4 linked regions of the Homo sapiens genome follow. The protein of the gene in region 1 interacts with the protein of each later gene in a biochemical or structural test. Each region holds a gene or a part of one and is shown in the gene's direction. Other genes may lie near its edges. The genes, in order: RGS7, CHRM2, PKD1 and CHRM5.

Region 1 (7,027 bases):
TGGGACTATAGTACCTGCACCACTACACCTGGCTACTTTTTGTATATATTTTTTTACAGACAGGGTCTCACTATGTTGGCCAGGCTGGTCTCGAATTCCTGGGCTCAAGTGATCCACCCACCTTGACCTCCCAAAGTGCTAGGATTACAGGCATGAGCCACTGCACCCAGCAAAATCTCTACAATTTTAAAATAAAATCACATTTTGTTAAAGTAGGCAGAATGGTCAAACTCATTGCTCTTCTAAAGTGATATCAATTGTGTTCAAATTCCAACATTTCATTTTGTTAACTCTTTAAGAGCCCTCTGCTTCTATTTTTTTAACCAACTTTGAAATTGTACTGACGTAGACTATACTCTTGTTCAGAATTGCCCAGCTGATCATGATTTAGAGTGGAAAATTGTGAAAATGTCATTACTTATGTAACTCCTTCTCTAACCCTCTTTTCAGATAAAATATTGGCAAATACAGTTAGATAGACATCGGTTAAAAATGTCAAAAGTCGCTGACAGGTGAGTATTTCAAAGTGTCTGTATAAATTTTAAAATTTCATATGACAATTACATGTGTTTAAAAATGAAAGAGAACTGTGGGGACAGGAGTTGGGACAGATAATTGGAATCCTGTAAGTAATGTGATTTTGTTTTCCTTTTTGCACATAGAAAAACTTTCAAAGAACTCTTTTGATGTAGTTTAAATGACAGAATGATTATAATTGTCTTAAATGTCTAGACATCCAGTCCTTGTTCCACTAAGAATCAGATATAGAGGATAATTCTGCAGAGTCTAGCCTTTTCACTCCTGCTGGAAGACATGAAACTTTCCATTTATTGATGACCTTTGGGCAAACTGGAGCCTCTCTATAAACTTATTTTAACAATGACAATTGACACTGTTCCTGCCTGACTTCAGAATATGAATGAAACTCAAATTTCAGATATTTTCCTTTGCTTCATTTAAATCTGTTCTTAATGCCATTCATATTCTTCACTTTTGGGCATTGCCAAATCCTACCTCCCCAACTTCTTTCCCTTCTCCCTTTTTAAAATTTTTATATACATTTAAAAAACTTGTCAGTGGCTCCCATTTTACTTAATTCCTGTAAATACTTTTGACAAAATTTCCCTTTTAAGCCCTTCTCTCAGTTGTATAAAATCTGTTCTGCTGTGGGTGGACTGATTAACCAAAGATTGGAACTGACTCTTAGCGGTGCCCTTCACACACTGACCTCTTCCATAGTGCTTCATGTTAACCAAGGGATACTGATTTACATGGCTTAGGCATGGGTAGAGATGGAATCTTTAGCCACAGTTGTCTGCCAAGAAGCACAATAAGTTGTTGCATGAAAGTTACTGAAGCGTGAAGATTGCCATTGGATTTCATGCTTTAAGTGAACAAGGATTCCTTGGTCCCACATTTTTATATTGTTTTCCCTGCTTTGGACTGGCTGCAACCCCAGTCAGAAAACTAAAGAAACTGGAAATGTTTTTTCTCCTTAGTCTACTAAGTTACACGGAACAGTATTTAGAATACGACCCGTTTCTTTTGCCACCTGACCCTTCTAACCCATGGCTGTCCGATGACACCACTTTCTGGGAACTTGAGGCAAGGTAGGTGGCATTTTATCTTTCTCGCCCATATGTTGCTTTATTTCAGGGTCTGAGTGAAATGGGAAGGATTTTATTGTTGGCTAATTGTGAATGTAATTTTGTTCTTTATCTACATTGGCCTATATCTAACATTCTTGTTCGAGATCATGGCTTTTGAAACTTAGACATTTGCATTTGCATTAAGATTTGCATTTGCATTAAGATTTGCATTGCTGGAAAGACCGTCCCAAAATTAGAGGTGCAATTAGTCAGAGTTAGGATCTTCAGCTCTTGAAATTTAGCTCATTGCTATTATCTTCCTGGAAAATTCACGTAGCCACAAAGTCTCATGTAGTCAAGTAAAGTGAATGCTAAAGCCATACATACTTAAGCCCAACACAAGTATGTCTTTATAAATTCAATTTTAAGACAGAATGAGCTTACCATAGACACTGTAAGAGAAACTGGCAAGACACTTCCTAAGAAAAGCAAAGCACCACTTAGGACTCCATAGTTTCTTTCATGAGCTATCTAGGGAAAGAACTACATCATCAGTCTTAACAGACTCATAAGAGGATCATGGCGTATCACTTTACAAAGAAAAGATGGGTGCTCTGTCACACTTCTAGCAGTTCTCTAGATTGCATTTCTGGTCTCTCTCACTTTTGCATCCAGCCATGAATCTTAAACACTGGACATGCCCAGAACTCTTCCTCCACAAGCTAAAGATTTTATAGATGAGAAAGCTGGAACCCCAAAATGTTGTGACTCAGTTGGGATTAGGTCACAGATTTAATTGACACCAGAATCATTAGCTAGTATTGAGATCTTTTGGTTACCAATGCATTTTCCCCAGTTCAATATACCTGCATGACCCTGTGTGGCGTAGTGGTTAAGAAATGTGTGCCTGGCATGGTGGCGCACACCTGTAATCCCAACACTTTGGGACGCTTTGGTGGGTGGATCACCTGAGGTCAGGAGTTCGAGACCAGCCTGACCAAAGTGGTGAAACCCCATCTCTACTAAAAATACAAAAAGTAGCCGGGCATAGTGGCAGGTGCCTGTAATACCAGCTACCCGGGAGGCTGAAGCAGGAGACTCTCTTGAACCCGGGAGGTGGAGGTTGCAGTGAGCCGAGATCACGCCATTGCACTCCAACCTGGGTGACAAGAGCAAAACTCCATCTCAAAAAAAAAAAAAAGAAAAAAGAAATGTGGCACTGGGGTCAGAATATCTGGATCTTTACCCCTTATTACTTGCCTGACATTGGCAAGTGATAATACTGTGCCTCACTGTCCTCATCTGGAAAATAATAAGATTAATAGTGGCTATCTCATAAAGTGGTTGGCAAAAACAAAAAGAGACCATTTATGTAAAGTGCCTGGCACATAATGCTCAATAAATGTTAGACTTTATTATTAATACTAATGTACACGATGATTTCATGCAGAGCCGTTAATCGGATATATATATTTTTAAAGAAAAGGTAAAGATGGGAACTTCGAGGCACACATGATTTTGAAGGGGAATGTAATAACAAAAAAATGGGAATTCTAATGAAAGGAATGTATTTGCCTTTGTTTTATCTTCTATAGCAAAGAACCGAGCCAGCAGAGGGTAAAACGATGGGGTTTTGGCATGGACGAGGCATTGAAAGACCCAGTTGGGAGAGAACAGTTCCTTAAATTTCTAGAGTCAGAATTCAGCTCGGAAAATTTAAGGTAAAACACATTGCTTGGATCTTATAAGCCAGAGAAATACTGTCTGTGATGTGTCTGGTTATTTTGGAGGTAATAGATCAATTATTCTTCCACTAACATCATAATGATGTCATGAACCCATTGAATTTCTGCCACCTAATGAAGGGAAAAGAGATAGCAAGGCAAAGGCTGTCCAACGTATCAATTTCTTATAACTTATTTTTACGCCGTCTCTGTATCTCCAGATGTTTTAACTATACAAATTTGGTGGCTTTGAAATGGACTCTGTAAAGAAATGCAGTACAGAGAACAATGTTTGGCAAAGTGGAGATTGGCCAATAACATTTATGAAGTTCAATTAAAATATCACCTATTTGTCATTGTTGACTATCTTTGCGTATCACTTCTCAAGCAAGTTAGAGAAGAAGAGACTGGGCAGCTATATCAAATAACTTGAAACCAAACTATTGGGCTGTCTCATTCTCTTTGCATGTTTAAATAATAGCCACAGGGCAATTGAGAGCAGCACAGCATTGAGCTGTTCGTGAGAGAGTGACACCCATTCTGCCCATCTGTTGTAAACATCATCTTTATATATTTTTAAAACTTGCTAACATAAGGAGGATCTGAAAATTGCATTTTTAAATATAAGACATTAGAGTGGATTTTAATAGCTCTATTTAACATCATTGAAGGGAGTGATAACTTTCCACTATATAAGACTGTTGTTTCATGAGTTCTTTCATTCATTATTCTTTTGAAAGCTGATGCCCAATTTTTACTTTTCCATGACTTATGCAGTCCTGTAAAATTCATTTACTGAAAGTTCTCTGCATTCATTTATTTTCATTGGAACGAAGTAGTGCCAGGCATGGTCACGTTCTTTTCAGGAGATTTAACAGGTAGGAATCCCAAACCATTCAGAAAGATGTAGGACGCTGACACATGTCGCATGGATGAAGCAAAATGACCACAGACAGAACCCGGAGGAATGTAACTCTCTGTGTGTGCCTGGCATGGATTGCTGGCATGCAGCTTCCTATTCTCCTTCCAGTTTATGGGAACCCTTCATGCTTGGGCTTTTGCAAGATCTTGCTGCTAAAGTTGCTAAAGTTCTGTATTGAGACTACTAATAACATTTTCTATATTAGGTCACATTGTCAATAATTGAGTGCAAGAATTCATTAAAAGGCTAGGTGCGAGGGCTCACGCCTATAATCCCAGCACTTTGGGAGCCGAGGCAGGTGGCTCTCTTGAGGCCAGGAATTTGAGAGCAGCCTGGCCAACATGGCAAACTCCATCTCTACAAAAAATTAAAATTAAAATTAACCGGGCATGGTGGCACATGCCTGTAGTGCCAGCTACTGGGGAGGCTGAGGAATGAGAATCGCTTAAACCCAGGAGGTGGAGGTTGCAGTGAGCTGAGATTGCACCACTGCACTCCAGCCTGGGCAACAGAGCAAGACTCTGTCTCAAAAAAAAAAAAAAAAAAAGAATGCATTAAAAATAAAGCAGAGATAAAGGATCCTTGAGGCATTTTAGTGGCTAGGGAGATGGACATTCCTCTCATTCTCTAAGTTTTTGAAAACATGCTGATATCATTTGTATCATCATGAGTAAATAAATAAGTAATAAGCCTTACCAGCCTCACCTAGCCAAATAAAAACATCGCCTTCTCTCATTAAAATTACAGTCTATTGGTAGATACAGACAAGAAAACAAATCACAGCACAAAATCATGGGTGTTTAGTTGGGAGAAGCAGAGAGGGATGCCTAGCCCAGAGTTAGAGATCAGCGAAGGGATACTAGGGGAAATCGCTTCTAGGCTAAGAGCTGGACAATGGGGAGGAGATAAACCATCAAAACAGGAAGAGAGAAGATGCCTTTGGAAAAAGAGGATAGCATGTGCATACTAGGTTTCAGGCATGAATTGAATTCCTGCCAATTTCTTAGTTCAAGCTTTAATCATTTCATATCTTAATCATTCTATGCCGTACTAGACTCTAGGCTAAGTGATTATATCTAAGAAATATTAGATTATCTTATATATATACACACACATTATATACATACACACATATACATATATTTCTTGAGTATCTACTATATTGCCTATCATATGTTTCCTTAGTAAGTATAGATCAGTAGATAAATGAAAGATGTAGATTAATTCTTGAATACCTACAAGACACCAGAATATATTTTATATCTACTACTTTTATAAGTATGCTGTTATATTTTGCATTCATTATTTCTGATCATCACACATCCAACCACCAAAACAACATAAAATGTAAATATTGCCTCATTTTATAGATGAGAAAAGCGTGGCTGAGGAAGGTTAAGCCGAGAAAGTGTGGCTAAGGAGGTCAGATTGCATGTAAGTGGCATTCTTGGTTTCCTACAAACCAGTACCAAGCTACTGTCCACTGCTCCCCAAATCTGAGCCCTACTCTGCTTCCACTGACATATCTGTGTCACACACTGAAGGAGACAAAATGGTCCAGTGGTCAACAGGGCTGTGAATTGCACTTAAAATAAAATAACTCTCCGTGCATCTTACCTAAACAGCTGCCCTCCTGCTATCAGTGAGTGTGTCACTCGTCTGAGCATTTTTTTTCAAATATTAGGACAGGAAAAAAATAAGAAGCACTGTTTCTCGATAACTACTTATGCTTCAAATATACCCTCTGCTCTCCCTAATAGAGAGCAGAAACTTGAAATTTTATGATGTATTTCCCTCATTCTTTTTTTTGAGCAAAACACATAGCATAGAGCAAGTGCTAAGAAAACATAGTAATATCATGAGTTTTTATCTTTGAGTGACTAAAAATATGCCAAGTACTTTTCAGTGCCTTCTATATAATTTATATCATTAGTATACATTAACGGAATTAATTTAATCAACTAATCCAATGGAAACCAATTAATCCAGTGGAAACCCAGTGAAATAGGCGTTATCATCCCATTTTACTGATGAGGAAATCAAGAATCAAAGACATTAAAAATACTTACTTAGCTTCCACCTATATAAAGGATATAGGATTTTTTTTTTTTTTTAAGAGAGATGGGATCTTTCTCTGACACCCAGGCTGCAGTTCAGAGACACTGTCATAGCTCATAGCAGCCTTGAAATCCTGGGCTCAACTGATCCTCCCACCTCAGCCTCCTGAGTAGCTAGGACCACAGGTGCAAGCCATTGCACCTGGCTCCTCCATGCTATTAAGCTATTACAATAATTACAGTAATGGTGAGAATAAGAAAGGCAATGATGCTGTTAGAAAGACCGTGTGAGGGAGTGGTTGTGAGCATGTCATCTGCTGCAGATCTTCTGGGAGCAAACCTCAGCTGTGACAGTAATAGTGAGCAACCTTAAATAAGCAACTTAATCTTCATATGCTTAGTTTCCTCTTCTCTAAAATGAGGGAAATAATAGAACTTGCCTAATAGAATTACTGTGGGAATTAAATGAGTTAATATAGGTGAATCACTTAGAGCAGTGCCTGCACTTACATAACAGTGTAGGTGTGGTTATTAACTTCTCAACCCCTTTATATTTTATGCTTATTTCCAGGCCCATTTCAGATGTCACTGGATTTAGAATAGCTTTGTCTAGATCCCCCTTTTCCAATCCAGCACTTGCCCCAGCAGAGGGGCTCTTTCCTGCTTGCCTTTCCCAGACCGTCTAGTTCGTTCTCTTCCTAGAGAGCCATTCATGTACTTCCTGGTGTTACGGCC
Region 2 (7,027 bases), on another chromosome or scaffold:
TTAAACAGAAGCCACAAACAGGCATACCTGTGCCATTGTTGGGGAGCTAATAATAAAGGCACTGATGATCACAGGAGTAAGAACAATTGACTTGGCCAAGAGACAATTTTAAGCTGGGAACTGTATTCGGCTGCAGTTCAGAAAGTGGACTTTTGAGACTTGTCAAACGAATGGAAGAATTTTGTGCCAACAATGTCCCAGCTTTGCAGGCTTGGCAGCTGAGGACTCAGAAGTAACAAATTAATGCCAGGTGAATTATTATTGTTACTACTATTATCAAAATGTGTTCCAGTTGCAGCAATACAATGGATAAGCAACTTCCTATTGACTCTATTTGCTTTCCTGGGCTAGACAATAATGCCAATTAAAACTTAAAAAATTTAACCTGACCCTAAAAAGAGGTGAGAACTCCAGCCAAATCTGTTTACCATTTTAAAATAAAGCTCTGTGAATGAGGTGGGGTGGGAATGGGGGAAAGTTTTGGGACTCCAAATTCCCAGGGCTAGACTGTCTGAAAGATGCTTCATTTTCCTATAAAATAAAGAGGCATGTTTGTTTGTAGAAGGGTGCTTGAGGGTGCCTGGAGGCAAATTGGAGTGAGCAAATAGGTGGATTTGAATACTGTCATAGTTCCAGTAAAAGGGAACCCAAAGAGCATGTTTTCAGCTCTCAACTAACTTCAGAGTCAGATGTGGAAAGAACTAGCAGGTGAAATACTGGTAAAAGTCCCTTTGGAGTGAGTTCCCATGGTCCTTCAATTTTGGGAGGCTGAGACTGTTGTCTTCATGTTAAAAAACAAACAAACAAAAACACATATTGCTCTAAATTTGACCCTATCGCCTTCATTGCCCAGAAAGTCCAGATAGTCAAGCATCCAGATGTGTCTTTACTGGACAATTTTCCAATTCCAATTCCAGAGCAGCCATTCCCCAGGGCCAATAGGAATGGGTGGTTTCAGAGATCCAAAGAAAACAGTCCCAGACTGCTGGCAGGTAGGGAAGGCACAAAAAGCATGAATGACACTGTCTTCAATGGAAGTTAGGCTGGCTAATTAGGAGTCCTATGTCTCTCTGACCCACAACAATGAGTAAAGTTAAAACAAGTACAAAAGAGGGAGAAGAGAAGAAATTAGAACAAAAGGGAAATGAAGACGGAATGGGAGAGAGAAAAATGAGGACAAGAATCTGTAGGTATATCAATAATCGTGCTGGATTCAACCTCCATCACTGATGTCAGCCTTTGTTTAGAATATGCATGTGAGCGAACCCTTTCTATTATCTTCACAAGATCACCCAGACACCATTCTCAATCCTGTCTTAAACTTTTCCCACTTTACTCAATAGGACAGAGACTGACAGAAACATTTTGCCACACAGTTCTCTTGAAGAATTGGTTTTCTTTATTTAAACTTATATTTGACTTGCTTGAGATTTTATGACATGGACTCTCCGTGGCATAGTTCCCAAGAGACTCCTATGTATCGAAAGCCACCAATGTCCACCTTGTGACTACTAACAACTGGCTTTTGCTTCCTGTACCCACTCTGTCCACCTTTGGTTCATTGAGCAGGCATCAGGACTTCTCTCATTTAAGATAAATGGCATAAGTATACTGATTGCATATCCCACAGCTCACCTGGCCTATGTGGTGGAGGTGGTATGTGGGGAAAGAGATGCAAGTCACCTTTCCTTAGGCAGGTATTTTTGCTGTGTGTATTCTAAGTCCTTGGCATTATTCTAAGCATCTTCCCATATGATATTTTCTGTTTTGTCAGTTGCTTTAGCCTCACTGCTTAAAATACAGCCAGGCATACCTAAGAAACATATTAAATCTCTTTTGAATGAGTTAATACAGCAATCAATTTTCTCATTTTATCTTTGCAACAATCCTATGTAGTAGATGTTATTTTCTACAGGAAGAAATCAGCATTCAGAGGGGTCTGGTAATGACCCGAGATCATACAGCTAGTAAGTTGCAGCCCCTGGATTCAAACACAAGCTTGTTGGACTCCACTGTCTTAGTTCTTATAGTGTGTCAATCGGTTCGCTATAAATAGTTGTGGCACTTGTTTTCCCTGTGTTTGGGGAAAACAAAACCATGGCATTCAGAAGTTCAATGATGTTCTCCCCATCTGTTAATACAACTTTGCATGTTTTTGTTAGATCCTCCAAACCTTAAGCAAAGAAGAGGCAGTGCTGAGTAGGCTCTTAGTTGGCACGTGCTTGTCTTGTTTAGTCAGTGATTGCCTCTGGCAGAGGTAAACGAGGGCACCAAAATTTTGGCAGATGCCATTTTCACCTCTCAGCAATACTAAGACATTATTAAACAGAAGTTCTTTTGTCTGATGCATAGTAATAAAAGATAATTTTGATATCATTCAGCTGAGTTCATGATAGGAAGCAGATCAAGAGACTTTTTCAAGGTGACACAGCTAACCAAGAACTGCATAAGAACACACACATCCCAATCCCAGTCTAGTTGTCTCTCCATTTTTTCATGCTAAATGAGTTCTCTTTTTCTATAAGATTGTTGGCACTTAAGATTCTGAATTTCAATGGCCCCATTTACTTTTAATTAGTATTTATTATCCACATGTGCTTTGAAAAGTATAATGTTACTTTGTAAACTGCTATTAGCAAAGAATGAGGTAGGTTCCAGTTGGTTTGCCTCTTTCCACTCTTTATATATCTTTGTCTTACTTTATTTATTTCTCTTTTTTTTTCTTCACATGTTCTAGCTCCTTCTTTTATACTATGACCTAAATATACAATCATCTTAACTGGTGCTGTTACCATGGTAATGTTTCATGGTAGATAAGGGTACACACTAAAAACTCAGTTTTCTCATTTTCTTTCATTAGTAATGGAATTCCTTCTGTCTCTCTTTTTTTTCTCTGTCTTCCCCCATGCCCTCCCTCTCTCTCTGCCCCCCCTCTCTCCCCTCTTCCCTCCCAAATCCAAGCTTTCACTGAATGATGCCCTCTGGTGTTCAATAACTGGAAGCACATTGGATTGGATAGGACAAGGACATCCGTTTTAAAGCTTAGGGAGAATTTCAATTTCAAACAAAAATTCAACTGGACCTAAGCAAGAAGGACTTTGAATTAATATGTTTTTAAGCAAAGAGATTAGTAGAATACATTTGTTGTCTGGGCATGTCAAATGTTGTTTACTATGTATACAGTTATGGCAAAGGGGTGGGAAGGATATTTATACCCTTACAGGTTTAACATTGTTATGAAAATGTTCTTATGGAAGAAAAAGAGATGCCACCGAGATATCCCTGGGAGGATAGTCTGATAGAATATTCTGCACATTTAAGTCTTTAAGACTTCTAAATGGAAGTCTTCTATCTTTAGAATGGAAACATTTTTCTTGCTGAATATATATATATATATGTAAAAAATGCATGTGTGTGTATGTGTGTATATATATACACATATATACATATATACACATATATACATATATACACACATATATACATATATATACACACACATACACACACATGAATTTTATATATATATATATATCTCCAGCAAGAAAAAAATATATATACATATATACATATACATACACACATACACACACGCGTGAGAAAGAAAGAGTGGAGGTATTTGTTAGGTGAGAAACGTAGACGTTTTACTCTTACTTACATGATTGTGTGAATAATAATATCAAGCTGCACATTTTTATTAATCCCTAAATACATGGCAAACTAGAAGTGAGGTTGATATGCTATAAACATATCTTCTTTCTTTCTCATTCCAAATTCCACTGCTGCCCTCTGATCAGACCCCAGGTTAAATCTGTTCCCTCAGAGGCTTCCCTGGAATCCATCCCCCTCTTTCCATCCGGGCATCTTTTCAGACCTTTCGCACCTCTCACATGAACTATCACCAGAGCCATATGCTTCTAACCGGTCTCCCACTCTCCAGTCTTTCTCTAGTACAAGCTACTCCTCACATTGCCAGAGTGACCTTTCTAAAATGCAAATCTGAACATGTCGTTCTCCTGTTTAAAATTCTTCAGTGTTTCTCAACAGTCTAGGATAAACCCTGAGATCAAACCCATGTGAGAGCTTCCATAGCTCATAGAGCTGTTTTGCCAGCCATCTTTCTCACAGGCATTTCTTCATCCTCCAACTGCACAAGGAAAGAATCCATGCACATAGCTTAGTGTAATGACTGGTACAGTGTACATGCTAAATAAATACTAGCCAATATATTTATTTCCCCTTTATTCTCCTCCTCCTCTTCCTCCTCTTCGTGGAATTTATTATTATTATAATACTAACAGGCAATGATAAGCTTCACACTTATACTCTAGCCATTCCTCAAACTAATAATAATACTCATGAAAAGGTATGATATAATATGATGAAGTTAATGAATATTTGGCATCCTCTATCTCATTTAATCTCTCACAGCCATGTGCACCACCTGGTGCCCACTAGGTGCTCAGTATATTCCTGTTATTTTTATATACCTAATCAATATAATAATAATGACATTTTTAGCCCTTATTATTCATAGCAACATGTTTTGGAAGGCGAAGCCATGGGTGTTTTTATTTTAAAAAACAAATTATTTACAAAGGAGTTAACTTATAAAAATGCTAGGCAACTTGGATGGTTTTATCTGGTGCTGGTAGTAGAGTAACAGCTAGAACTTGTTAGGGATACAGATGACGTGAGAATAGAGGCCATATTTTATAAATGATGGCAATATACACTTACATTTGTATTTCTGTCTTCTCTTTAAAACGAAACCAAATGCCCTGATGTTTCCAAATAACACAATTAAGTGGAATTTTTAAAACCACTTTCTATTTTCAAAATAATTTTACTATTATTTTATTGCATAGTGTGCAACCGCATAGATACCCACAGTACCCCTCCATTTTATCGTATCAAAGAAACTGTAGGCAACTTCATAGGCTGAGGGCTATTTTAAGTTCAAATTTCCAGCACATGGACAATGAGTAACAGCAACAATAAAACTGAGGATCTACATTTTTAAGATTAGTGCAAAATACATAACAAAAACTGTAGTAACGAGGCAGTCTTTTGAAGCTATCTGTATTTATTGGGCTCAGAAAAACAGGACCTCTCTTTTCTGAGGCTGAGAATCCTAAATATCCTTGAATATTGACCTCTTGGCAGAACTGGGCCCACTTTTTCAAAAGTCAATATTCATGTCACCAGGTATAGTGCTTTAAATGATAAGATTCTGAATTACTTAAATAACTACTATCTTCTAAGAAGTCATTTAAAAGAGATTAATTCACAGGTTGAGTATCTGAGACACTTTATTCCTCTTGTAAAGACATTGAGTCAGGCTGGGAATTAGGGACAGGAATCTAGATTTTTAACCAGCCCCTTCCATGATACTGAGGTGGGAAATCACAGGACTACATTTTAAATAACAGATTGATGAACTGGAACATAGAAGGCATCAAGGAGGAAAGAAGATAGGATGTACAACTCAAAATGTTGCTGCCAATAGTACTATATGTATTTTCCATTAGGGCCCGGACAGAGAGCTTTGCTGTAGCCGGAGACTTTTTGATTTGTTAGGCAAATTCTAGTGTGAACAATGAATAACGGTTCAGGAAGACAGCTATAGATTAAGAAGCACATCTTTCAATGTAGAGGAAACCTAGATACCTGTGTGTTTAGATGGGACACAGTCCCATTTGCATACAATATGTCCTTGGAGTTAAATCAGTCTCGGCTACTTAAGAAATAAGTACTTGATTTCTTTTCTATTTCTTATTTTTTTCCTTCTTAAATTCCTTTCATTCGTTTAATATCTTCACAGATCATATATATCTTCATGATTCCAGAGCTCCTCTCTGCATTCTTCTATCTGGTGTTCTGTGTAGATTCTTATTACTAATGTAGCTGGATCAAGCACCTGGACTTCTTCCTCTTCTTCTCTCCCAACTCTAGTGGAGGAGTTAGAGAAAGTGAGAGAATTGTCTTAAATGTTAATGCTGATACATTTCACTGTCATTGTTGCAAAATGTTGTTGCATTCTGATGATCCCAAGTAACAGGCGGGTATGATACCTCCTCTAGGAATAAGAAAGTTATAATGACTTTTCTTGATGTTATTGTTCACCCTTAGTCATGCTGATGATTCTTCTGTTTGAATAAAGCAAATAAGCTGTTCTTCACCTCCTCATTCATGCCAAGCCAATAAACAAGACAGAATCATGTTGGAAAACAAGCTTCTTATTTCTTATTTAATTAACTACCAAGGAACTCTTTAGGAGGAATGTGATCGTGAGCTAAATAATTACCTGAAGCCTAATTTTTCTTCCTTTCTATAAAAGATAAGCACAGAATAATTTGATTGGTAGAGGAAAAAAATACATTTCACAACCTGTTTTACATTGTTGAACACGATGAAGATTTTCTAATACTCTGCCTTCCTTGGCACTGTTACAAAGGGAAGAGCTTCTACCATAACCAGCATGAAAATAGAAAGTGATAAGAAAATTCTACTTAATTGTGTTCTTTGGAGAGCATCAGGGCATTTGGTTTCATTTTAGGGAGAAGATAAAGAGCAGCCCCAGGGCCAAAGCATGTTTCCCAGATATGCCCACTGTTTTCTTGCTTTATCCTCAAAATTACTTTTCTATGAGATTTTATCAGTGGAGTAGGCAGTTATGTCTTCGCATGTAAGCCTAAATAATAAAGACTTTATTTTTCTTTGTGCTATGCTGGATGGAGGTACTGAAGGCAGGAGGAAGGGTAGATGATATAGGTTTAATTTCTATTCTCTCTGGCAACTGGGTATCATTCAACAGTAAACAAGCAATCTCAGTTTTGCTTTATTTTAAAATAAGCCTGACTGGATATTTTCCATGGCTAGTTATATCCTTATCAGGGGAAATTTCAGAATTTGGGGTGAGATACTCTTCTGTGACAATAATAATGGCAACAAAAACCACGAAATGACAGCTGCTGTTTTTTGAGTGTTTACCAAATTTTAGAACCTATGCCATTTCTTTACATGT
Region 3 (7,027 bases), on another chromosome or scaffold:
CAGGGCCTGGTTGCCAGTGGGGGGCTGGCATAGACCCTTCCCACCAGACCTGGTCCCCAACACCTGCCCCTGCCCTGCAGAAACCTGAGTGGGAACCCGTTTGAGTGTGACTGTGGCCTGGCGTGGCTGCCGCGATGGGCGGAGGAGCAGCAGGTGCGGGTGGTGCAGCCCGAGGCAGCCACGTGTGCTGGGCCTGGCTCCCTGGCTGGCCAGCCTCTGCTTGGCATCCCCTTGCTGGACAGTGGCTGTGGTGAGTGCCGGTGGGTGGGGCCAGCTCTGTCCTTCCCAGCCAGGTGGGACCTGGGCCCTGCAGACACTGGGCAGGGCTCAGGAAGGCCTCTCTGGGGGGGGCCTCCGGGCCAAGGGAACAGCATGGGAGCCTGTGAGTGCGGCGGGCGGATGTGGGGGCGTGGGGTGGAGCCAGGAGGAGCAGAACCCGGGGTCCAGTGGCTGCCTCTTCTAGGTGAGGAGTATGTCGCCTGCCTCCCTGACAACAGCTCAGGCACCGTGGCAGCAGTGTCCTTTTCAGCTGCCCACGAAGGCCTGCTTCAGCCAGAGGCCTGCAGCGCCTTCTGCTTCTCCACCGGCCAGGGCCTCGCAGCCCTCTCGGAGCAGGGCTGGTGCCTGTGTGGGGCGGCCCAGCCCTCCAGTGCCTCCTTTGCCTGCCTGTCCCTCTGCTCCGGCCCCCCGCCACCTCCTGCCCCCACCTGTAGGGGCCCCACCCTCCTCCAGCACGTCTTCCCTGCCTCCCCAGGGGCCACCCTGGTGGGGCCCCACGGACCTCTGGCCTCTGGCCAGCTAGCAGCCTTCCACATCGCTGCCCCGCTCCCTGTCACTGCCACACGCTGGGACTTCGGAGACGGCTCCGCCGAGGTGGATGCCGCTGGGCCGGCTGCCTCGCATCGCTATGTGCTGCCTGGGCGCTATCACGTGACGGCCGTGCTGGCCCTGGGGGCCGGCTCAGCCCTGCTGGGGACAGACGTGCAGGTGGAAGCGGCACCTGCCGCCCTGGAGCTCGTGTGCCCGTCCTCGGTGCAGAGTGACGAGAGCCTCGACCTCAGCATCCAGAACCGCGGTGGTTCAGGCCTGGAGGCCGCCTACAGCATCGTGGCCCTGGGCGAGGAGCCGGCCCGAGGTGAGTGTCTGCTGCCCACTCCCCTTCCTCCCCAGGGCCATCCAGATGGGGCAGAGCCTGGTACCCCCGTCTTGGGCCCACACTGACCGTTGACACCCTCGTTCCCACCGGTCTCCAGCGGTGCACCCGCTCTGCCCCTCGGACACGGAGATCTTCCCTGGCAACGGGCACTGCTACCGCCTGGTGGTGGAGAAGGCGGCCTGGCTGCAGGCGCAGGAGCAGTGTCAGGCCTGGGCCGGGGCCGCCCTGGCAATGGTGGACAGTCCCGCCGTGCAGCGCTTCCTGGTCTCCCGGGTCACCAGGTGCCTGCCCCCACCCCCCGAGGGGCCATAGGTTGGGAGATCTCTGAAGCACTGGGGCAGAGCCTGCGGCTGGGGAGTCTCAGGAGGAAGGAGGTGGGAGCTGGGCCGGCCCTGGTGAGCAGGTGGCGCCGGCCGGTGGGGCCGTTCCTGTCAGCTCTGCAGATGCAGAGGTGGACATGAGCTGGGGGCAGCCTCCGGACACTCCTGGGCACGCCATACGGGAGGTGGCCTGCACGGGGATCCCTGCCGGTACCCACAGGCCCCGTGGGTGGGTGCTGCTGTGAGCCTGGGCTGGTGGGCCCTGGTCTCCGGGCTCTGAGCCTCAGTTTCCCCATCTGGAAAGGGGGACAGTGATGGGGCTCCCAGCGGGCTGCTGTGAGGGTGGGAGGATGGAGGAGTGCCCTGAGCCCCCTGCCATCCCACACCCGCCCCCAGGAGCCTAGACGTGTGGATCGGCTTCTCGACTGTGCAGGGGGTGGAGGTGGGCCCAGCGCCGCAGGGCGAGGCCTTCAGCCTGGAGAGCTGCCAGAACTGGCTGCCCGGGGAGCCACACCCAGCCACAGCCGAGCACTGCGTCCGGCTCGGGCCCACCGGGTGGTGTAACACCGACCTGTGCTCAGCGCCGCACAGCTACGTCTGCGAGCTGCAGCCCGGAGGTGTGCGGGGGGCCAGGCAGGGGCCTGAGACGCTGGCTGTGGTTAGGGGCCTGCCGAGCGCCCGCGGTGGAGCCTGGGCTGAGGAGGAGGGGCTGGTGGGGGGGTTTTCGGGCGGCTCGGTCCCCAGTCTGTTCGTCCTGGTGTCCTGGGCCCTGGCCCGGCGCCTCACTGTGCACTCGCCACCCCAGGCCCAGTGCAGGATGCCGAGAACCTCCTCGTGGGAGCGCCCAGTGGGGACCTGCAGGGACCCCTGACGCCTCTGGCACAGCAGGACGGCCTCTCAGCCCCGCACGAGCCCGTGGAGGTAGTCGGCCCCCCACGTTCTACAACCTGCCCTCCTGCCTGCCCCTGGAGGCCTTGCCTGCCCTGCCCACTGTGGGTCTCGCCAAAAAACTTGGGGGCCTTAATGTTGCTTGTGCCCAGTGAAGATGGTTGGGAAAATCCAGAGTGCAGAGAGGAAAGCGTTTACTCACATTACCTCCAGGCCTTTTCTCTGAGCGTGTGTGAGTTATTCCTGAAAGGCAGGTCAGGGGTCCTGCCCCCCATGGACAGTTTCCACCGGAGTCTTCCTCTCGAGCGACAGGAGCCAGGCCTGTGGGGGTCTGATGGCTCGCTCTCCTTCCCTCCCCTCTTCCTGGGAAGTTCGGGTAGGGGGAGTCTGGGCTTCAGGCTGGGATGGGGTCTGTGGAGCTGAGGCGGCCCCCTGCCCACCAGGTCATGGTATTCCCGGGCCTGCGTCTGAGCCGTGAAGCCTTCCTCACCACGGCCGAATTTGGGACCCAGGAGCTCCGGCGGCCCGCCCAGCTGCGGCTGCAGGTGTACCGGCTCCTCAGCACAGCAGGTGGGACTCTGGGTGGTGGGTGGTGGGTGGTGGGCGCCGCAGGACTCGGGGTGGCCTCTCTGAGCTTTCACGTCTGCTGGTCCTGTGGCCACCAGAGTGGTTCCCAGTCTTAGGTGGACAGAGCAGGGGTTCCAGAGACACCAGCTCATTCCAGGTGTCCTGGGGGTGGATTGGGTGGGGCCTGCCTGGGGGCCGGCCTGGGTCAGTCGGCTGGCCGGAGACGGACGCAGCACTGGGCTGGGAGTGCTGCCCAGGTGGGGAGACCTGTCCTCACAGCAAGGCCAGGATTGCTGGTGCAGGCAGTTGGGCATCTCTGACGGTGGCCTGTGGGCAAATCAGGGCCCCAACACCCTCCCCTCCTCACAGGGACCCCGGAGAACGGCAGCGAGCCTGAGAGCAGGTCCCCGGACAACAGGACCCAGCTGGCCCCCGCGTGCATGCCAGGGGGACGCTGGTGCCCTGGAGCCAACATCTGCTTGCCGCTGGACGCCTCCTGCCACCCCCAGGCCTGCGCCAATGGCTGCACGTCAGGGCCAGGGCTACCCGGGGCCCCCTATGCGCTATGGAGAGAGTTCCTCTTCTCCGTTCCCGCGGGGCCCCCCGCGCAGTACTCGGTGTGTGGCCCTGACCTGGGTCTGTTCCCTGCATCTCCTCAGGCCACCTTCCTGTCTGCTGCCCAGGGTCTGGGTCTGTGCACCAGACACACCCAGCCTGCAGGCCCCTCCCACGTCCTTGCCACCTCTGACCTCCGACCTCTGCAGTGCCCTCGGCCCTCTCCCAGTGGGAGAAGCTCTCGCCTGGGCCCTTGGCACGAGCTGTGCCTCCTCTTCCTCTCTCCCAGCACAGCTGCTCCTTCCTGTCTGCCAGGTCTTGGCCTGTGTCCTCTCCCCGTGTGTCCCCCGGTCTGCAACTGTCCTGCCTGTCCTTGTCACGAGCACTGTGGGGAGGCTCCTTGAGGTGTGGCTGACGAAGCGGGGAGCCCTGCGTGTCCACCCTCATCCGTCGTGCGGGGGTCCACGGGCCATGACCGTGAGGACGTGATGCAGCCCTGCCTCCCTCTCCACAGGTCACCCTCCACGGCCAGGATGTCCTCATGCTCCCTGGTGACCTCGTTGGCTTGCAGCACGACGCTGGCCCTGGCGCCCTCCTGCACTGCTCGCCGGCTCCCGGCCACCCTGGTCCCCGGGCCCCGTACCTCTCCGCCAACGCCTCGTCATGGCTGCCCCACTTGCCAGCCCAGCTGGAGGGCACTTGGGCCTGCCCTGCCTGTGCCCTGCGGCTGCTTGCAGCCACGGAACAGCTCACCGTGCTGCTGGGCTTGAGGCCCAACCCTGGACTGCGGCTGCCTGGGCGCTATGAGGTCCGGGCAGAGGTGGGCAATGGCGTGTCCAGGCACAACCTCTCCTGCAGCTTTGACGTGGTCTCCCCAGTGGCTGGGCTGCGGGTCATCTACCCTGCCCCCCGCGACGGCCGCCTCTACGTGCCCACCAACGGCTCAGCCTTGGTGCTCCAGGTGGACTCTGGTGCCAACGCCACGGCCACGGCTCGCTGGCCTGGGGGCAGTGTCAGCGCCCGCTTTGAGAATGTCTGCCCTGCCCTGGTGGCCACCTTCGTGCCCGGCTGCCCCTGGGAGACCAACGATACCCTGTTCTCAGTGGTAGCACTGCCGTGGCTCAGTGAGGGGGAGCACGTGGTGGACGTGGTGGTGGAAAACAGCGCCAGCCGGGCCAACCTCAGCCTGCGGGTGACGGCGGAGGAGCCCATCTGTGGCCTCCGCGCCACGCCCAGCCCCGAGGCCCGTGTACTGCAGGGAGTCCTAGTGGTGAGTATGGCCGAGGCTCCACCACCAGCCCCCAGGCAGGTGCCTGCAGACAGGGTGCTCACACAGGGCGTGAGGCCTGGCTTCCCAGTGAGGGCAGCAGCCCAGTTACTGGGGACGTCGGCCCCGGGCAGGTCCTGCTGGCTGGCTCCTCGGGCTACCTGGTGGGCTTTAAATTCCTGGAAAGTCACGGCTCTGACAGTGGCTCCGCTAACTCATTCCACTGTCTCATTTCACAAAATGAATTTAAAACTCTGCTCCCTGACCTCACACGAGCCCCCGTGAGTCTCTCACGCCCTCTGCTGTGTTCTCGCCTGGCTAAAGCGAGTGGCTTTTGAGGTGGAGTCTGAACCCCTGATGGGAAACTGCGGGCTGCCCGCGGTGCCACCATGCTGGGTACATGGGGGACAGGGCTGTCTCCATCTTGCGGGTACCTGCCTCTTCACCAGGGGCCTTGGGAGGGGCCATCAGAAATGGCGTGACCTGTGCAGCCTGTCCTGGGTTCTGTAAGCCAGTGTAGGTGCCTCCCCTCACTGCTCCGAGCTCTCTGGGTGAGGAGCTGGGGCAAGAGCGCCGGGAGGGTCTGAGAAGACTCAGAGAGAGGTGGACTCTTTGTAGCTGGTACTAGGTTTGCTTTACAGATGGGGAAACTGAGGCACAGAGAGGTTGAGGCATTAGTAGTACTACATGGCTGGCTGGAGAGCCGGACAGTGAGTGTCCCAGCCCGGGCTTGGCTCCCATGGCATGCAGAGCCCCGGGCACCTCCTCTCCTCTGTGCCCCGCGTGGGACTCTCCAGCCCGACGGGAGGTGTGTCCAGGAGGCGACAGGCTAAGGGCAGAGTCCTCCACAGAGCCCAGGCTGACACCATTCCCCCCGCAGAGGTACAGCCCCGTGGTGGAGGCCGGCTCGGACATGGTCTTCCGGTGGACCATCAACGACAAGCAGTCCCTGACCTTCCAGAACGTGGTCTTCAATGTCATTTATCAGAGCGCGGCGGTCTTCAAGCTCTCAGTAGGTGGGCGGGGGTGGGGAGGGGAGGGGATGGGGCGGGGCAGGGCGGGGGCGGGCTCCACCTTCACCTCTGCCTTCTGCTCTGCTTCATGCTGCCCGAGGACGCTGCCATGGCTGTGGGTGAGTGGAGGGAGGGACGCCAATCAGGGCCAGGCCTCTCACCTGCCACCTGGGCTCACTGACGCCTGTCCCTGCAGCTGACGGCCTCCAACCACGTGAGCAACGTCACCGTGAACTACAACGTAACCGTGGAGCGGATGAACAGGATGCAGGGTCTGCAGGTCTCCACAGTGCCGGCCGTGCTGTCCCCCAATGCCACGCTAGCACTGACGGCGGGCGTGCTGGTGGACTCGGCCGTGGAGGTGGCCTTCCTGTGAGTGACTCGGGGGCCGGTTTGGGGTGGGCACCAGGCTCTTGTCCCAGCCCCAGCCTCAGCCGAGGGACCCCCACATCACGGGGTTGCTTTTCTGAGCCTCGGTTTCCCTGTCTGTTGGGAGGTAACTGGGTGCACAGGAGCCCTGAGGCTGCACGGGAGCCGGGAGAGGCCTCAGCACAGCCGGGTGGGCCCTGAATGGAGGCCCGGGGCGTGACTGCAGAGTGGAGCCTCGGCTGGGTCCCAAGCACCCCCTGCCCCGCCACCGCCCACCCCTGTCCCGGTTCACTCACTGCGTCCCACCGCCCCGGCAGGTGGACCTTTGGGGATGGGGAGCAGGCCCTCCACCAGTTCCAGCCTCCGTACAACGAGTCCTTCCCGGTTCCAGACCCCTCGGTGGCCCAGGTGCTGGTGGAGCACAATGTCATGCACACCTACGCTGCCCCAGGTGAGGGATGAGGGGGTGAGGGGGCCACTGCCTTTCAGGCTCTGAGCACGGGGTCCCCCCAGCTCCCCAGTCAAGCTGCCCCCCTTCCTCCCCAACAGCCCTCACTGTGACCTCACCTGGGCTGATGGCTTAGGCCCCTACTGGGGTGAGGGAGGGGCCAGGCGTGGGGGGAGTGGACAGGGAAGCTGGGCCCCTGAACTGCGCCCCCCGCCCTCCCCGGGCCTGGCTCTTGCTGCTCTGCTGCCCCGAGTGCAGCTGCACTTGGAGGCGGTGCCGTCCTCGCCAGGCAGCCCTCAGTGCTGCTACACCTGTGCTCCGTCCCGCACGTGGCTTGGGAGCCTGGGACCCTTAAGGCTGGGCCGCAGGTGCAGCCGTTCACCCCGGGCTCCTCAGGCGGGGGGCTTCTGCCGAGCGGGTGGGGAGCAGGTGGGGGTGCCGCGG
Region 4 (7,027 bases), on another chromosome or scaffold:
ACATCCATTTCGTGTATGTTGACATAACAATCTTAAAAAGTAATTTTTGTCTGAAATACCAAGCAACATAATTTTGTATATAAAATTAGAAACATACCTAAAATTCATTTTTCTGTGTTAGCATTCAACTTAAAGGGACATTGCATAATATTTTTAAATGCATTAAATATATATTTACTTATATCTTCATTATTATAACTTTAAGTTTTCATAAGGAATTTTTTTCATTCCATTATAATGGCACCGTGTTTCAAGCTTAATTCAACTGGGCATTTCAACTAGCCAATATATTTGTTCCTTATTATGGTTAATTTTCCTTATGAAGTGACCAAATTTGAATAAGGATGTAGTTCACCATGAAGATCATCTCCTCTCCAGCTTCTTCCTGCTGAGAGAGAACAATCTTTGGTTTGTGACATCACAATCTGTGACTGGGAAGTGGCTCTGATATCAAACAGATGATTATATGCTTTCAGTGTGAACTAGCTAAAAGAGAGATGTAAGCACTATTATTTCAAGTCATATCACCAAGACACTAAAGAGATGCATGACAGGAACTGAATTAGAGAAAGATGCTTTTATTGCATTTGTCACTTTTTCAGCATCAACTATTAAAGATAAAAGTACCATCTCACAGTTTTCTCATTAATAATTCAAAAGCGGGAGTAAACATCATGTTGGTTAAATTCACAGACCATGATAAAACGGGAGTAAGGAAAATACCAGTAAGCAAGCAGACAGTCATGAAAGAGGCCCCTAGAGAACTGAGAAATAGATGCAAAATTTCACCTTGGTTCAAGCAGAAATACTGATGCTACTCAGAAAATTGAAAAATTACCAAAACACCCAAAATGAGAAAGACGGTGTCTCTGAATGAGAAAGAGATCCCTAAATATAGATTATAAAGTGATCCCATGACATAGATTAATTAGTATCTGACACATGGACTAGTATGAGGGCAGGGAGGGGGCTGGTTAACACCTTTCTAAAACAGCATGGATTTGTTAAAAAACAAAAACAACAACAGAAAACAAAAACAAAAACAAAAACAAAAAAACAAAGGACTGTCTTGAATTAGCAAAACTTCTGTGTTCTCTGAAAGTCTTCAACAAATATTTGTAAAAAATAAATAAAAATAAATCAGGAGTTAGGGTTCAATTAAGGAAACAAAAATGAAAGCTCCTTTTACAAACACATAGGCATATACAGACCTCTTTTTGTAATCTTTGTTTGCAACAGTAGCCAAAAGACAAAGCAGACCAACTAATCCTTCCACACTGAACACATGTGCAGTCTGTCCTTTGATTAGTGGCAATACCCTGATTCAGAGTATCAGTCATTTGTGACTGACCCTCCTAGACTCAGAGCCTATACAAAGATGATGTGTAAAAAATACAGTTAACTACTCCACGCATAATTACAAGTCAAGCTGAAGTCTCATTATCTACAGTTACACAGATTGCTTGATCCAGTGGTGTGTAGAGAATTCTTAAAGCATTTATTCAGTCCTATGTACTGGTTCATTACAACCAATGGGTTATTCAGCAGTTGTTTAAAGATCTGACATTCTCCATTTTTTGTATTGAAATTATTAGTGAAATAACTCAAGAATCTGGACCAATCAGAAAACATTACCACTTTTATAGACATTGTTTGACGTCACACTGTTGTCATCATCAGACTACGTGGGCCTTCTTATTTCCTGATTATCACTATAGAAATGTAGCACTGAATAATGTGTTCTTTAAGAAGCAAAAGCCAGAGATGATTTCCAGTTCAGTTATCAACTAAAAATCCTTAGCTATTTATAGAATTTTTTGGTACAGTAACCTAGAAAGCTGTTGGTGTAAATCTATCAGGCTCAGTATATAACATAGTACAACTCTTAATATTTCATCAACTGTATACCTTCCCTTCATTTGTGTTGCAAAGACAGTCCTCTACATGCAGTAACTTCTGGGTAACTTCTGGTAATACCTACAGAAGAGCTTCTCATGCCTAGGAACTTCCCCAACACTTTGAGGATACTTCTTTCATAACACCTTGTTAGATTCCATTGAAAACCTATTTATGGCCAAGCGCAACCTGTAATCCCAGCACTCTGGGAGGCCAAAGCTGGAGGATCGCTTGAGGCCAGGAGTTCGAGACCCACCTAGGCAACACAGCAAGACTCCATCTCTATAAAAAAATCTAAAAGTTAAAAAAATAAGAAAATCTATTTATATAGTTGTCTGACATACGAAATTGCATTTTTCATGGTTGAGGGCCTTAAGAGTAAAGACCACATCTAATTTATCTGTCTATTCCCAAGGTAAGCTCAGGACTAGTTAATCAGCAGATGTGTTAAATGAATGTGAAAATGTATCTTAATGCATTCTCAGGTACAATCTCAGACAGCCAGAAGAATAGTGATCCTAAAATATACCTCAGCTGCATTTCACTGATAATAGGCAAGTAGGTAACTGCAGAAAAGTCTAATGAAGGAGTCTTTTAAAGTAGTTTATACTGAAATAATAGCTATAAGGAGATAATATCTGTTAGGGATAGTATATGATATTATGAGGTATGCAAATACAGGATAGCAAATTTATCCCTTATGCTTTTGCTCTATTTGACATATGGAAATCACGTTTGCTATACTACTAGATCTAGAATTTCATCGATAATCCAAAAGGATCTAAATTGGTCTTGCTATTAAAAAGTGACTTCAGGGGAATTTGAATAAGTACTTTGCAAATGAAATTGAAGAGATACTACAGTCATCTTTCTATTCAAAGATGAGTGGAGAAAGTGACACACTTAAAATCTTACATTTATTCTGTTGGATGCTCTACCTGCCCCCTCTCCCTCTTTCACTCTCTGTGAGGAATGAATCTTTGCAAGTTACCTATGTTATATCTCCCCAAGTCATCTCTTCTCCTTATGCCAACATACAATATACCAACAATGGTGATTTCTTTAAAAGCAGGGACAAAGGCTAAAAGACTATGCTGTGCCTCAACCCCTATGATAGAAATTAAAGTAGCAGAGTGTTGAAGTAGGCCAGCATCACTCTAGAATTCATCAACATGTGTGTTGGGGTGGGGGCAGCTATAGTCTGAAGATGCTCAGGGTACATGAATAATGCATGTGTACGTCCTCACAGAAATCTGTGATTTGATGTTGGCGTGCACAACTTAAGATTTTGAGCTTTGGGCCGGGCACAGTGGCTCACGCCTGTAATCCCAGCACTTTGGGAGGCCGAGGCAGGTGGATCACCTGAGGTCAGGGGTTTGAGACCAGCCTGGCCAACATGTTGAAACCCCGTTTCTAATAAAAATACAAAAATTAGCCGGGTGTGGTGGTGCATGCCTGTAATCCCCGCTACTTGGAGGCTGGGGCCGGAGAATCGCTTGAACCCAGGAGGTGGAGCTTGCAGTGAGCCAAGATTGCACCATTACGCTCCAGCCTGAGCAACAAGGGCGAAACTCTATCCTGAAGGAAAAAAAGAACAACAGATTTTGAGTTTTGACATCCTATCATGTTTTTAGCCATGTTCCTTCTTTCAAACACCATCTTAGATAAAATATCAAGATATAAGACATATAAGAGCAGATCTGCCCTGGTTGGGTTGAGACAGAAAGCTTAGAGCCCGCAGGTCCCCTTCTCACCCCATCTCTTCTACACTCTCTCCTCCACACGCTTCTTGGACACCTTCTAAGATATGTTTGTTGTAATTGTTCTGCCATCTAGAGGATTCACAAAGATATTCTTCTCCATTTTAATGCAAGTTTTTGATTCCATATAGACACTGCCAAATACTCTAACCTAAAACTCCTGGTATATGTCAAGCAATAGTATTTTCTAGAGCAAGAGGGCACAGGTTGCGAAACAGTGCTACTTAGCTATGCGGAATGCTACTCAATTATTCTGCTGCCTAAACATTGATCAAGCAACTAAGACCTAGGATTCAAATAAATTATAAGTTGATTTTAAAAAGGACTAAACATCTATAATTTGGGTTGGAATATTCCAGAAGTAACTAAAATTAACAAAATCTCAAAAAATTATTTGCAATCAAGAAAGCATAGAAACAAAAAGTGAGAATTTGTCATAATAGAACTCAGAATTCAGTGTGAGAAAACAACAGAATTTGTTAGAAATACCAGGTCCCAGCTGGGCACGGTGGCTCACGCCTGTAATCCCAGCACTTTGGGAGGCCGAGGCAGGTGAATCATGAGGTCAGGAGTTCAAGACCAGCCTGACCAACATGGTGAAATCCCATCTCTACTGAGAATACAAAAATTAGCCGGGCGTGGTGGCACATGCCTGTAGTCCCAGCTACTCGGGAGGCTGAGGCAGAAGAATCCCTTGAACCCGGGCAGCGGAGGTTACAGTGAGCCTAGATTGTGCCACTGCACTCCAGCCTGGGTGACAGAGTGACTATGTCTCAAAAGAAGAAAAGAAAAGAAAGAAATACCAGGTCCCTTGCATAATATTCTAGTATTATTTCACCTAACAACATTATACCAAACACTGGAGTTGTCCTGAGTTGTTTCCAGGTTTGTGAACTCTGCAATTTACTTGCTTTTGCAAGTGAGATGGGGCTCAAGTATTTAAGCTTGAACCTCCATATATAACTAAATATTACAACCAGCAGGATATATTGGATAAAATCAACTTTTAAAAGAGGAAATATGATCTTCCATCTAAAAAAGCCATGTTTCAATTATTATGACATACTATTTATATTACAATGTATTCATTTGCATTCAGTGATCATCTCCAGCACTGTCCTGTTCACTAAGGAATTCTCATAACTATTCATCCAAAATCTCAAATGATTCCTGCTTTGAAGTCAATCTCCTAAGTGAGTAATGTCGCTTTTTTCTCTAAAATACTTTAAAATATTTTCAAATATATTCTTGAGATTCAATTTTAAGTAGAGTTATTTTAAACCAACAACCAATACCCATGGACTTATTACACAGCTTTAATATAAATTTCTGCCATGCCCGCATCAGATTTTTTATGGCCTCTCCATAAATGGATCTGGGAAGAAAAACTCCAGTAGACAACACACTTTTATTCTGTAAGTGTATTAGGAACTGGTTAAAATTTATATATCTTTATTTAGGCTTTTTAAGTATCAGGAATAGGACCTTCTGCAGGCATAATGGTATATCTCCATTTAAAATATTTTAAATAAATGTAAACAGCAAGACAGAAACAAAAAAAAAATTTAACATAAATGTATTGTACCTCTCCTGTCTCAGATGACCAGCTGAAATTTTTAACATAAATTTATTGTACCTTTCCTGTCTCAGATCCCCAGCTGAACTTTTGAAACAAACATCCTAGGCATAGAAACATAAGCTACTTTATTTTTCTATGCCTTTTCTTCCCATCCCTGAGTCAGCCAGCCTCCTGTGGTATAGTGACATCCTGGATGGAAGTAAAATAATCAAAATTACAGGGTCCCTTGGGAAGGAAACCAATTCCCAGCAGTGATTCCTTATATAGAAAAGAGATAGCTAAACTCATGGTCACAATGGCATGAATTAGTTATGGCAAGGTTAATATCTTGTATAGAAAAAAATAATTTTTGGCTTAAATTGGTACCAAGGAGATAGGAAGGTTGAAAGGCTGTCTCCTCACTAACAAAATCCGCACTACCTTTTTTAGCAACAAAATGAACAAAAAACACAAAATATACATTTAAAGGGAACACAAAAAGCTGGAGTTCTTACATGAGACAGGGAAGCTTGCCTTTAGGATAACAAGAACAAGCTCCAATACTCTTACTCTAAGACACTTTTTCTCATATATTGGTAGGATAGAAAGATCATCTGATTAGCACTTCAACAAAGCAGAAGATGAGACAGATTCAAAACAAATCCTCCCCTTATCATCTCCTCCTATACTCCCTTACTTTTATTTACAAGTACATAAAATACTGCATATTATAATGAATTCCGGTTTCAAACCTTGACATTCTCTTTTGTTAGGAGGCTATGACAGCGTGCTTTGATTCAGGGTGTTGTATCCCAGCCTCGTGGCCTCACTGAGCACCATTCTTATGCTTGCTCTCCTCCAAGGACACTTTGGAAGAAAGGATGGTACATACATATTTTCCTTCTCATTACAGCCCTATGTCTATGTCTGTGAAATTTTGAACCTTGAAATTCTGACTATTTCTACAAGTGAAGAATCAAACGTTCTCTATTACACTCTAAGTTTCCAATAATATGGTCTCAGAGCAAGTAAGTCCTCCCTGGCAAAACAGCCAGGTTTGAATTAGAAAGGACTATTTCAGGCCAGGTGTGGTAGTTCACCCGTGTAATTCTAACACTTTGGAGGCCAAGGCAGGAGGATTGCTTGAGCCCAGGAGGTCAAAGCCGCAGCAAGCTGTGAACACGCCACTGCACTCCAGCCTGGGTGACAGAACGAGCCCTGTCAAAACAGAGAAAAAAGAAAAGAAAAGAAAGAGAAAGAGAAAAGGAAAAAGAAAGGAAGAAAAGGAAGAGAGGAAGGGAGGGAGGGAGGGAGGGATGGAAGGATGGAGGAGGAAGCGAGAGAGGTAGGGAGGGAGGGAGGACCATTTCAAAAGTCACTATGTCTATATAAAACTATTTTAAAAACATAGAAATTCAACCAGAAAACCTTAGCGATCCAAGTACATGAAGAAAGAGGAAATTTCTCTCTAGGCAGAACCAATGCAGACTGGCCGTTCTGAACAAAGTGACACGTATTACTAATATTTCCTGAGCATCCTCTGAACATGTGTGGTACTAGACTACAGCAAACCCACTGTAGACACAGGAAGTCTCTTGAGTGAGAAAAACAGAGTGGGGGAGTACATTTAATAATTGGAAATAAAACATCAAATGAAAATTAAAGCGTACAGGCCGGGCACGATGGCTCACGCCTGTAATCCCAGCACTTTAGGAGCCCGAGGTGGGAGGATCACCTGAGGTCAGGAGTTCAAAACCAGCCTGATCAACATGGTGAAACCCTGTCTCTACTAAAAATACAAAAATTAGCCGGC

Evidence for each region.
Region 2: the proteins of RGS7 (region 1) and CHRM2 form a complex in vitro, tested with the Homo sapiens proteins (one study listed by BioGRID).
Region 3: the proteins of RGS7 (region 1) and PKD1 form a complex in vitro, tested with the Homo sapiens proteins (one study listed by BioGRID).
Region 4: the proteins of RGS7 (region 1) and CHRM5 form a complex in vitro, tested with the Homo sapiens proteins (one study listed by BioGRID).

What each region holds. Positions count from the first base shown.
Region 1 is NC_000001.11:240,808,201-240,815,227, reverse strand, and holds part of RGS7 (regulator of G-protein signaling 7), read left to right. Parts: intron 1-450; coding exon 451-512; intron 513-1,499; coding exon 1,500-1,610; intron 1,611-3,184; coding exon 3,185-3,310; intron 3,311-7,027. UniProt on the Homo sapiens protein: GTPase activator component of the RGS7-GNB5 complex that regulates G protein-coupled receptor signaling cascades.
Region 2 is NC_000007.14:136,871,643-136,878,669, forward strand, and holds part of CHRM2 (muscarinic acetylcholine receptor M2), read left to right. Parts: intron 1-7,027. UniProt on the Homo sapiens protein: The muscarinic acetylcholine receptor mediates various cellular responses, including inhibition of adenylate cyclase, breakdown of phosphoinositides and modulation of potassium channels through the action of G proteins.
Region 3 is NC_000016.10:2,111,899-2,118,925, reverse strand, and holds part of PKD1 (polycystin-1 isoform 1 precursor), read left to right. Parts: intron 1-80; coding exon 81-250; intron 251-463; coding exon 464-1,135; intron 1,136-1,253; coding exon 1,254-1,437; intron 1,438-1,872; coding exon 1,873-2,093; intron 2,094-2,281; coding exon 2,282-2,397; intron 2,398-2,807; coding exon 2,808-2,934; intron 2,935-3,300; coding exon 3,301-3,548; intron 3,549-3,775; coding exon of another isoform or gene 3,776-3,891; intron 3,892-4,000; coding exon 4,001-4,756; intron 4,757-5,633; coding exon 5,634-5,765; exon of another isoform or gene 5,766-5,769; intron 5,770-5,860; coding exon of another isoform or gene 5,861-5,885; intron 5,886-5,962; coding exon 5,963-6,138; intron 6,139-6,452; coding exon 6,453-6,586; intron 6,587-7,027. UniProt on the Homo sapiens protein: Component of a heteromeric calcium-permeable ion channel formed by PKD1 and PKD2 that is activated by interaction between PKD1 and a Wnt family member, such as WNT3A and WNT9B. Both PKD1 and PKD2 are required for channel activity.
Region 4 is NC_000015.10:33,971,497-33,978,523, forward strand, and holds part of CHRM5 (muscarinic acetylcholine receptor M5), read left to right. Parts: intron 1-7,027. UniProt on the Homo sapiens protein: The muscarinic acetylcholine receptor mediates various cellular responses, including inhibition of adenylate cyclase, breakdown of phosphoinositides and modulation of potassium channels through the action of G proteins.